Homo sapiens: one gene and its partners. The protein of the gene in region 2 purifies or fractionates together with the protein of the main gene of each other region. This does not show direct contact. Each region holds a gene or a part of one and is shown on either strand. Other genes may lie near its edges. The genes, in order: FBXW8, TBC1D3 and PPP2R5C.

Region 1 (3,646 bases), on a different chromosome or scaffold from region 2:
TCAACTTTACAGAAAGGCTAACAGGCTCAGAGCTGTTAAGCAGCTCCCCTAAGTCCGTCAGCTAACAAGTGCTGGAGCTGGATTTGAACTCAAATAGTCACAAACTGTTATCTCCACACATTTATTTCTTGGTGAATTTTGAAAAATTGAATCAATTGGAATTGGAGCAAGGCATTAACCAGCCTAATGCAGAGAGTAATCATTTTCTTGGGTAAATCTTCGAAGGGAAGGAAATAGCTTGGGAATGATAAAAAGAAATTATTTTTGAGGAAAGAAGAATCAATGAAATGCTAAGTACAGAAAAGGTTATCTGACTGGAAAAGCATAAGCTCCTGTAGACCACTGGTCCTAAACTCCAGTGGACATCCCCAGAGTTACTGGTGCCTGACAGTCTGCATTTCTAATAAGTCGCCACGTGGTACTGATGCTACCGGTCTGGAAACCACCCTGGAGAAAGGGTGTGTGGCCAGTGTGTGAAAGAGGAATTAATCTGGGTAGCAGCATTCCAGGTGCTGGGAGAAGAGTGGAAAATCGGCATTTTTGGCAAGTGTGGGATATTGAAGCACAGGTTTTAGAGCTGTGCAAAATAAAGCACTGCTGCTAACAGAGGCTTTAGGAGGATGGCGCTGAGGAAGGATGTGAAATTCAGGCTGAGCATCCCTAATCCAAAATTCCAAAATGCTTTGAAACTGTTTAAGCACTGACATGATGCTACATGTAGGAAATTTCACATCTAACTTCATGTGATGGGTTTGTAGCCAAAACACAGCCAAAACTTTGCTTCATGCACAGAATTATTTAAAATATTGTATAGACCAGGTACGTTGGCTCACACGTGTAATTCCAACACTTTGGGAGGCAGAGGCAGGAAGATTGCTTGACCCCAGTAGTTCAAAAAAGCAGCCTGGGCAACATAGTGAGACTGTGTCTCAGCTAAATTAAAAATTAGCTGGGTATGGTGGCACACGCCTGTAGTCCTGTCTATTTGGGAGGCTGAAGCAGGAAGATCACTTAGGCCCATCAGTTCAAAAATGCAGTGAGCTATGATAGCACCACTGCACTCCAGCCTGGGCGAAGAGTGAGGCACTGTTTCTAAAAAATAAAAAAGTAAAATAAAATATTGTATAAAATTACCTTCAGGCCATGTGCATCAGGTATATATGAAACGTAAGTGATTTCGTGTTTAGACTTGGGTCTCATTTCCAAGGTATCTCCGTTAAAAAATTTTCCTTTGTGTTGCATGTTTTTAAAATAATTGAACATATTAAGTAAATTTAAAATTGTTACCTGCATTGTTTCTTGCTGCATAGGGTTTCTTAATATTTGGGATTTAAGGACCGGAAAGTACCCTGTTCATCGTTTTGAGCACGATGCAAGAATACAGGCACTAGCCCTCAGCCAGGACGATGCAACCGTGGCCACAGCTTCTGCTTTTGATGTCGTGATGTTATCCCCCAATGAGGAGGGGTACTGGCAGATAGCTGCGGAATTTGAAGTTCCGAAACTGGTGAGCTTTTTAGTCTGGTCATCTTATTTTCTATTCTTAGAATCTCTGGGTCTAATGTAAGCACGTACTAATGGTGTTGGTAACTCCCATTCACTCAGAGCTTCCTGCGGGCCTTACCTCCATAAGTCTAACTACAGCCTTACAAAATAGGTAGTAGCATTTTCCCCATTTACCAAGAAGCCACTTCAGGCTGCTTAGAGCAGTGAACTGACTTGCCCCAGTTCTCAGAGGTAAGAAGTTACGATTCAAACCTCAGGGCTGACTTCAGGGCCAGAGCTGCTCATCACTGTGGTTCCTTGGCCTTCTTCAGACTAACACGGTGGAATCTCACCCTTGGGAATCAAAGATCAGTTTGACCTAATATATAAGTGAGAATGAGTTCAGTGGTGTTATCCCAGTCCATCTGGGAAGGAAGGTTTCCATTCCTACACTTTCTTCATCCCAAGACTGTCTCACCTGAAATTTAAAGTAACTCTTGCGTGAAGATAGATTTAAGTTGGTGTTAATTGGGTAGCCATGTTCCAGGATGTCATGTGTGCAGCTCAGCCAGCCTTAAGAATTCTTTATGTCGAGCTTATTTCTGAGTTCATTGGTACAGGAACCTCTAGATTTGTAGAGTGGGAGATGATTTGGTGTTAAGAAGGAAGTGCTCAAATCTGTCTATGCTGAGTTAGGATTTAATTTAAACAAACTTGATTTTGGCACTGGTAGGAGAGTGAGCAGAAAAGCCAACACTGAGTGATGAATTGAGGGCCTGACCTGGAACCAATCCTGTTCCTCCCTCTTTCTGTCTGTTGGGAATCTTCTTAGACTAGAATAACTTAGAAAGCCATGGCATCACTGCTTCACCTCCAGGAGCGTCTGCACTTTGAGTATAGTGCTCCCCTAAAATGGCCTGATGCTGTCAGCTCATCTGGGTTTTATTAGAAAAATGTGAAAGTACATTTCTGTTCTCAAAACTTCCATAGTACTTACTATTTAGTCTGTGATTAAAGAATACTGTGTCACAAGGTCAGGAGATCGAGACCATCCTGGCTAACACGGTGAAACCACGTCTCTACTAAAAATACAAAAAATTAGCCGGGCGTGGTGGTGGGCGCCTGTAGTCCCAGCTACTCAGGAGGCTGAGGCAGGAGAATGGCGTGAACCCAGGAGGCGGAGCTTGCAGTGAGCCGAGATCGCCACTGCAGTCCAGCCTGGGCAACAGAGCGAGACTCCGTCTCAAAAAAAAAAAAAGACAAAAAAACAACAAAAAAACGAATACTGTAGACCAGCAATCACTGTATGGACCCAGATACTTACTTAAGATGCCAGTTTCTCTGTAAAGTGCAAATCCTGCCTTGGCAATAAGGTGGCATCCTGGCACAGACTGGAAGCTTTTTGAACTAGTTTACAGCCCCCAGCAAATGGCACCACCACTGTCAATCTGAGCCTCTTGGTCTGTCAGAAAGCCAACACGGAGATAAAGTTAAAGGGCTAGACGGAGGATATCAGTTGTAGGAAAATGAGACATGATTTGGGGGAGTGAGAGGAACCGAGCAGCCATTGTTCAAGGCGGGTTTTATGCACGTTTTAGGAATTATTTTTCACTTTGAGTGAAAGGTTCCCACAAAATGCTCTGAGTATCCTTGGAAAAGGCACCCCTGGCCCGAAGAGCCAAGCCAGTTTTGTCTTGTCCATATACGCCCCTGAATGGCAGTGGCAGTGTTCCCAGGTCTGCGATATTAGCCTAGTGCGGCTGTCCTTTGTGATGGACCCGCAGCTTGCGGAGCTGGGCCCGAGTATTAGCAGAGTCCCCCGGATGTTGACGCTCCCTCCAGCTCTTCTGGACCGTGTTCTGGAGGCCGGCTTTGAACTCTTTGGCATATGGTCAGGGCAGCGCTGTCCTTTCACACTGTGGATTTTCATAATTAGTGTGGCTCACCTTCTATGTGTCCTCTCGTGATTTACTCGCAGAGGCGAAAGCCTGTTGCGAACGGCACCGCGGAGAAATGGGCCGCCTGTGGATGGACAGAATCAAATTATTCTTGAAAAGTGCGTCTCAGACTCGTGCACATTAGAGAAAGTGCCGGCGGTGACGCAGTCAGGACTGGGGAGCGGGGTGGGTAGAAACATGCGTGTTTGTAGAGCCTTCCTTAC
Region 2 (4,402 bases):
TTAGGCAACCAGCTGCCCCCATGCTCCTCTTCTGCCCCCCTGGTATTTCCTTTCCCCTCATGAGGCCCAAGTGATCCACATGGCCAGCCACAGCCCCATCCTACTGCAGGCCTGTGTGGCTGCTAGAGAGGCCAGGCTCCTTTCCGCACCCCGAGGCTGCCCGATATGCTTTCTGCATCCTGTAGAAAACTGACCCACTATTCTCATACTGGTGCAACTTCTTCCATTACCTCAAAACTGGACAACGTGAACTTGTTTCTTGTCTCTTCTTGCTAGGGCTGTCACTGGGACAGTCCGAGATGCGGGGGTGGGGGGAGACAATGGATGAATGGATGGATGAATGGACAGTAGTCCAGGGAGATGTCCCTGTGTGTCCTGAACTGGGACCTTCCTCCAATGAGAAGCCTTCCTGAGTGAGTTTATACAGTCATCCCTTGGTATCCATGGATTAGTTCTAGGGTCCCCGGGGATGCCAAAATCCATGGATCCTCAAGTCTCTGACATAACATGGCCTAGTATTTACATATCAGCTATGCACATCCTCCCGTAGACATTAGACCATCCCTGGATTATTCATGATGTGTAATACAATGCAGATGCTACATAAATGGTCGTGATACTGGATTCTTTAGGGAATAATGACAAGAACAAACTCTGCACATGTTCAATAGAAACATAACCGTCCAATTTATTTTCTGAATATTTTCCATCTGCTGTTGCTGAATCTACAGATGCAGAGCTCCTGGATACGAGAGCCAAGTGTGCTTTGAGAGTAGGGTGGGTGAGGTTGCTAATGAGTACAGGGGAGCAGGTGTTGATCAGGAGGACCCTGCACTGGGGCATCTGGACGTCCTGCCTCAGGACTTGAGACTCCAGTTGGATGGCACAGGCAGACTCAGCCCAGGTCAAAGCCGTCCCCTTGAAGTTTCTTTTTATCCCAAGCTCTTTCTGGCCCCTGGAATTTGGCATCCCCTAGGCCCTGTGTGGAAGGACAGATGAACCAGGTTTTAGATAACATGTCTAGAAGAGTGAGCCCCTACTGTGTGCCCGGCACTTTCCCCACAGGATCCTCTAGCTAGAATATCCAAGGGTCATGGAGAGAAATACCCAGTTAAAATATCAGAAATGAAAAAGCGATACCATTAGAGACACTAAAAAGACCATTAGGTAATAGTACTAGCTTTTGTATTCTGAGATCCAACAGCAGCAGTCACTTCCCTCCACCGCTATGTGTATCCCAGGACCACCCTGGGCGGGGAGGGCTGAGGTTAGGGAGCAGCCATGGATGCTCTGATGCTGGCCCTGGGCCTCGGGGGTGACAGTGATGAGGAACTGGGTGCACACATGAGTGGGGCAGCCGGGCCTGGCCAGAGAAGCAGCACACACGTGCACAGATGTGTTTACCCACATACACATGTGCACGCACGTGCACAAACACATTGCAGGCAGGCATGTTGACGCCTCAGGCAGCGGAGGACCCTGACTCTGGGCGCTGCTGACCCGGGCAAGGCCCCACTGTGATTCGTGCCATGACCTCAGAATGTCACTGGTGCTTAGCACCTATCTGCTCTCTGGTCTGCCTCAGTGGTCTACAGCAGTTACACACAGGCAGTGGTATCTGTGAGCAGCTCTGTGGACTCAAAGGTTTTCTCCCTGAGAGGCATGACCCAGGCCAGCTGATTCATCAGAATCAGGTGAGCGTGACCTGCTCTCTTCCCTCCAGGCGGACTTGGGGGCAGTGGCTACGGTGCGGGCGGTGTTGGCCTCTGTGGGGCAGCTACCGAGGAGGGTCATCCCTGAGCACTCACCAGGCGCCCGTTCTACACTGCCCGTGTAGACGATTGGCTCTTTCGTCTCCATGGTGGCTTCGTAGAGTGGGTGCTGTTCCCAAATGTCCCCATTCGACAGATGAGACGTCTGGGGTCAGAGAGGCAGTAACCGGCCTGGGAATCCGGACATGACCCTGAGTTTTGCTCTCAGCCCTGCCGTGTGCTGTGCTGGAATTCAGGCCTGAACCCTGTGACCTCCCTGCCCTAGATCCCAAATCTGCCCAGGTTTCCCATCCCGATGGGGCAGAGCCTGGTCCTGGCAGAGCCACTGGTACAGAGCCACTGACGGTCCTCAGAACACCTCTGTGCCCTAAGCTGGGTCCTGATGGTCGCTGTGGGCCCCACTGAACACACATGGTCCCTTGTCCGGGGGAGCCTGCTGCCCTTGGGCAGCTGTGGAAAATGAAGGAGCCCTGGAGGGCTGGCTGAGGGGAGACTATCTTCCCTTGTGTTCAAAGGGGTCCGGGCACTAGGGTTCTCCCCAGGTATTTCTTGCTCTGCGTGGTCCTCTTGAGGCCTCGCCCTCCTTTTGCCTCGAGTATTCCCAGGAGGGACGGTCCATCCAGCTGTTCTCCAGGACCAAGGACCCACTGTTCTTCCTCAGTGACCCAGGAAAATGAAGCCTCCTCCTGTTGGGACGGCTCAGAATGGTGGACTCCACAGTCCCTCCGCGAGAGACGTGGTTTCCATGCGTACAATAGATCTTTCTCATCCCCCAAACCCAACACCCTCCTGCTCAACAGGCGTTATTCCTAAAGTGGCTTCACTGTTCAGACTGAAGAGCCACGGTAGCCAAAGTGATGAGCGGAGTAGAACCGAGCAGTCGGGAGAGATCTTGTTCCCTGTAGGAAACTGGGCATCGCTGAGGCCCTGAGCATCCCAGGAGGCCGATTGCACAGAGACCTCTGGTCGCTGACCCCAGTCTGCCTCCACATCCCTGGAATAGCCCATCATGGGCCCTTCACCCTTGGCAGGTGGAAACCATTCAACCTGCTGGGGCCAGTGTGTCCCCATTTCATGGCATTGGGGGACAACAGGATTCTCTGTCTAGGTCCCACTGTACTCAAGTCCTTGGGAAGATGCCCACCCCTGCTTGGGACTTGAGACTCCAGAGACTGGAGCAGCTGTGGGCCACTGGGTCTGGCCCCTTTTTCCCTGGGGGCGGCGGTGGAATGGGGGTTACGCAGCCAGCCAGCATCTGGGAGCCCGGCGAGAGCGGTTCAGGTGTTCTCCGAAGCCGCCGCGTACGGTGTGACCTTTAGACAATTCTGTCTCACAGGATGGACGTGGTAGAGGTCGCGGGCAGTTGGTGGGCACAAGAGCGAGAGGACATCATTATGAAATACGAAAAGGTACAAGTCGGTCTGCTTCTTGGAGGGAGGCCTCTTCCAGTGTGCCCTGGTCAAAGGGTCCTGGGCTCCCTAGGAGCACAGGGCAGGGACGGGTGGCCAATGCCCCCAGGCCCTTGCACCCTTTACCTTGGACCCCTCACCAAGGCTCCCTCTGGGCTACAGGGACACCGAGCTGGGCTGCCAGAGGACAAGGGGCCTAAGCCTTTTCGAAGCTACAACAACAACGTCGATCATTTGGGGATTGTACAGTGAGTCCTCTGCACTCCCCTCACCCCTAAAGCACCTGTCTCAGCTCAGGGATGGGTTTGCTTTTAGAAAGGCCTTTCTGACGCAGGACATGTCTCACCAGGTCGGGTCAACCTCCTTTCCAGGGACAGAACTCCTCCCTGACTCCCCTGCAGGTCCAGCCCGAGGTTGTTAGGCCAGAGGTGTGGGGCCCATCTAGGGAGCCGGTGGGAATGGAGACTGGGCTAGGTCAGGCCCCTGGGCGCTCAGCAGTTCTGTCGGCAAGTGAGCACAAGAGGAGCGGGGCAGCCTGAGGGTCTGGCCCTGTCTACTTGGAGACAAACCCGGTGAGATGCAAGGGTTATGGCCACAGGGTGAGGGGACTCCTGGCCCAGCCTCAGGGCTGTTGTGCAGCAGGTCTCTGAGGGCCCACCTGCCCCTGTTCTCCCCCATTCCCCTAGAGCTACAGCCCTCACTGTCCCGTGAGGGGAAAAGGCATGGTGACAATGGGGGCTGTAGCCCTAGGAGAACGGGGGAGAAGATGGGCAGGGCCCCGTTCTGGGCATCTCACGGTGAGGCCAGGGAGGCAGCAGGGCTCGCGGCTAAAGACCTGGGTCTGGTGCTGGGAAGGGATCTGGGGCCGGGTAAGAGGAGCCCAGCCAGGAGCCCATCCCTCAGGGATCACAGGATGGAGAGACAGAGGATCCCTGGGGAGGTAGGGCGGGAGGGAGCTGACGAGCCGTGCCACTTCTGAAACGCAGGGTGTGTGGCTCGGGTGCAGGGAGAGGCAGGTGGATGCTGGGAGGTCAGAACCTGCAAGGGCCTTGGGGCTGTCAAGTGGGGTGGGCCCCTGGTGCAGCCAGAGTACACCGGGCAGGTCTCAGGGCAGGCTCCCTTGACCCTGGCGGGGGGATGTGGTCACTCCCTGAGGGACTCCTGTCAGGGCCCGGTCGCCCACCCTGGGCGGCCCCCATCCCATCTCAGGGCTAACCTTTC
Region 3 (3,646 bases), on a different chromosome or scaffold from region 2:
TCTCAGCATCCCACCCATACACACCGCACCACAACCTCAGGATCTCTAAGCTGTAGGCTTCTGGCAGGAGAAGCGTCAGCCCCATGCTGCTCAGAGCCTCCAAGTGCTGCTGTGAGTTGTGTGCAGATGAAGGGTGTTGACAGTAGTTATACAGGTGAAGCTCCTCTTCCCAGAGGCATACATGCTGTGATGGGGACAGGCCAAGTGTCCTGGTGACTGCCTCGAACTCCCAGATAGTTCTGTGGAACGTGCACTTGTGTGCTGGTTTACTACGGAGAGAAAAAGCAAATAGGGTAGGGTATGAACAGTGTTGAATCTGGGTGGAGGGAGGTGGGCACTCATTATGTTAGTCTTGCAGCTTTGTCTGTTTTTGAAAGTTTTAGTAATAAAAATGGGGGGCTGAGTGCAGTGGCTCACGCCTGTAGTCCCAGCACTTTGGGAGGCCAAGGCGGGTGGATCACCTGAGGTCAGAAGCTCGAGAGCAGCCTGGCCAACATGGTGAAACCCCGTCTCTACTAAAAATACAAAAATTAGCCAGGTGCGATGGCGCATGCCTATAGTCCCAGCCACTCAGGAGGCTCAGGTAGGAGAATCGCTTGAACCCAGGAGGCAGAGGTTGTAGTGAGTCGAGATAGCACCACTGCACTCCAGCCTGGGCAACAGAGTGAAACTCCATCTCTTTTTAAAAAACAAAAATGGATGGGCTAGGCGTGGTAGCTCACGCCTGTAATCCCAGCACTTTGGAAGACCAAGGCAGGTGGATCACCTGATCTCAGGAGTTCGAGACCAACCTGACCAACATGGCAAAACCCTGTCTCCACTAAAAATACAAAAAAGCCGGGTGTGGTGGCGTGCGCCTGTAATCCCAGCCCCTCAGGAGGCTGAGGCAGGAGAATCGCTTGAACCCGGGAGGCAGAGGTTGCAGTCAGCCAAGATCACGCCATTGCACTCCAGCCTGGGCAACAAGAGCAAAAATCCATCTCAAAAAAAAAAAAGAAAAGAAAAATGGGGGAACCACCCTCTAGTGGCTTCCCGTGAGTAAGCGCCAGTGCACTCAGGCCCTGTTCCCCTGCCCTCCTACTGTTCATGCCCCCACTGCCCTCTGCAGTGGTCCTCAGCCAGCCCCGTGCTGACAACTCAGGACCTCTCCTCCCTCTGGTCCTTGCTCAGATGTCACCTCCTCCCCATTGAAGCCACCCCACCGCACACGCACCGCCGCTGCCTGTTCTCCTGCCCTGCTGCCCTTTGTATGTGACTTATCGTTTCTAGTAAATTAATAATCATCCATCACCTGTCTCCTCCCCACTAGAATGTAAGCTCCGTGGAGTCAAGGATTTCTGCCTTGCTTTGTTCAGTGCTGAATGCTCAGCAGAACACAGCACGCCCTCTTGACCTGACAGATGGGGGAGGCGGGTGGATAGGTGGAATGGCCTCCTTTGAGTTGTCTCCTCAGCATCTAGCCAGCATCTAGCATAAATGTTTACGGAATAAGTAGAGAAATAGGTGACAATGTTCTTGATGAGTTGATGTACAAGAAGTTGTCTGCCTCTTTGTTGAAGGCTCTTCAGGGTTACAGGTTACAGTCTAGAATATTTTGAATTTGTAGAAATAATCATAATTTTCTGGTCCAAGGTAGTTCATTACCCGACTCACAGGTTTAACAGCAAGGACAGCCACCTGATGTCTCAGGCACAACCTCCAGCAAGCCATCCACTTGTGTCTTTCAGGTGGCAGAGCGAGCTCTCTATTACTGGAATAATGAATACATCATGAGTTTAATCAGTGACAACGCAGCGAAGATTCTGCCCATCATGTTTCCTTCCTTGTACCGCAACTCAAAGACCCATTGGAACAAGTAAGAAAGAACTGGCTGCCATCTTTTTCAGTCATTTTAAAATATGGCACGTTTTACTGCTACTTCAGTAAGAATAAATATCAGAATTTTAAATATCAATTAAAAAACAAGAAGGTCAGTTGCTTTGTGGACTCATAAATTAAGTAGCAGCGTGGGTTGTTTCTGTGGCCGTTGAATTTACCACCTTATACCTTCATTCCTGCCAGTATAGAGGCACATTGGTTTGCAGCCACCTCCCAGTAGCAGCAGTTTCTAGGCCTCTTCCTGAGCGTCCTGCAGAGAAGCTGAAGGTCTCTGCAGAGCCCAGTGGGGCTCAGCCCCGGCGGGGGCACAGTGGCCACTGCATTCTCGGGGTGTCTATTGAGCTCTGCTGACATGCACCCTGGATGAGCCCCTGTGTGAGACCCAAGAACCACCCCACAGTGGTCACTACCTGGAGAAGAAGAGGGAAGCCAGGTGATCTGAACACAGCCCCATAGTCCCAGCAGCCAAAAACATTTCCTCCTACTCCGCTCCTTCATCTTTTGACTTAAAGAGGATGAATAAATCCGTTTACTGAGCAATAGTCTTCTGAGACTTTAAAAGGAAACTGTTGATATGGGTGCCACATTATTTATTTATTTTTCTTTTTTAAAATTTGTATTTTATTTGTTTATTTTTAGACAGGGTCTTGCTATGTCCCCCCGGCTGGAGTGTAGTGTCACGATCATGGCTCACTTCAGCCTCGACCTCCTGGGCTCAAGCAAACCTCCTGCCTCAGGGTCCTGAGTAGCTGGGACTACAGGCACCCACCGCTACGCCTGGCTAATTTTTGTATTTTTTGTAGAGATGGGGTTTTGCCATGTTGCCCAGGCTGGTCTCGAACTCCTGGACTCAAGTATTCCACCTGCCTCAGCCTCCCAAAGTGCTGGGACGACGTGAGCCACTGCGCCCAGGCCATATTATTTATTAATATGGTATCATCTAATATTCCTGCTATTTAAAGAAATACGACTGAGTTTTTCTTTCCCCACCTTCTTTCATCTCTTTCCATTGTATATTGTAATTATAACTCAGAACTTAAAGAAGAGCAGGTTATGCTATCCAGCCCTCCTCCCTTAGTTTATGGGTGAGGAAGGTGAGACTTGGAGGGCATTCGCAGCCCAGTCTGCGGTCCCAAAGCTGGTGAGCGGCACTCTGGCCCGGTGCGGTCTCCTAACTCGCAGTGTCTATTGGGCACCCCTCTGGCTGTGCTGCACAGTCACCCTGCTGCCGGCGGACCAGCCCTCTCCCATGCACCCTCTCTCCTTGTCCGCTCGAGGCTGCAGGTGGCACTGCCTCCTTCCCAGAATTCTGCAGGGCAGCAGCCAGACAGGTGTTAGCCCTGGAGCTCTGAGCCAGACCCCCGAGCGAGCGTCCAGCCAGTCCACTCGCGTCAAGTCTTCTGAGGGTTGCCGCCCAGAAATTCAACAGAGAAGGGCAGGCAGATCAGAGTGAGGATGACTTTGGTTCACATTCCTGCCTTCCTCCTGAGCAGCTGTCTGAACCCGGGGAAGTTAGCTCTCACCAGGTCTTTCTTAGCCACAGTTTCTCTTTGGAAAAACTGAGAAAGTAAAGTGCTTTGCCTTGCAACAATCTTCACTTGGTTGTGAGGATTAAGATAAAGTTAATATGCGTAAAGTACCTGGCTTATGATAGGCACCAAGTAAGCATTTGCTGTCACTTAGTGGTTGTAGGGCCAGCAGCCATGCTGATAGCAGTGGAGGCAGCAGCCAAGACCCTCATGGCAATAGCGTGGTGGTTGTAGTTGTT

The links.
Region 1: the proteins of TBC1D3 (region 2) and FBXW8 purify together in Homo sapiens (affinity purification with western blotting; one study listed by BioGRID). This does not show direct contact.
Region 3: the proteins of TBC1D3 (region 2) and PPP2R5C purify together in Homo sapiens (affinity purification with western blotting; one study listed by BioGRID). This does not show direct contact.

What each region holds. Positions count from the first base shown.
Region 1 is NC_000012.12:116,983,896-116,987,541, forward strand, and holds part of FBXW8 (F-box/WD repeat-containing protein 8), read left to right. Parts: intron 1-1,287; exon of another isoform or gene 1,288-1,310; coding exon 1,311-1,507; intron 1,508-1,758; exon of another isoform or gene 1,759-3,442; intron 3,443-3,646. UniProt on the Homo sapiens protein: Substrate-recognition component of the Cul7-RING(FBXW8) ubiquitin ligase complex, which mediates the ubiquitination and subsequent proteasomal degradation of target proteins.
Region 2 is NC_000017.11:38,189,737-38,194,138, reverse strand, and holds the start of TBC1D3 (TBC1 domain family member 3), read left to right. Parts: upstream 1-1,583; 5' UTR 1,584-1,694; intron 1,695-3,108; 5' UTR 3,109-3,109; coding exon 3,110-3,181; intron 3,182-3,343; coding exon 3,344-3,429; intron 3,430-4,402. UniProt on the Homo sapiens protein: Acts as a GTPase activating protein for RAB5. Does not act on RAB4 or RAB11.
Region 3 is NC_000014.9:101,904,675-101,908,320, forward strand, and holds part of PPP2R5C (serine/threonine-protein phosphatase 2A 56 kDa regulatory subunit gamma isoform), read left to right. Parts: intron 1-1,727; coding exon 1,728-1,855; intron 1,856-3,646.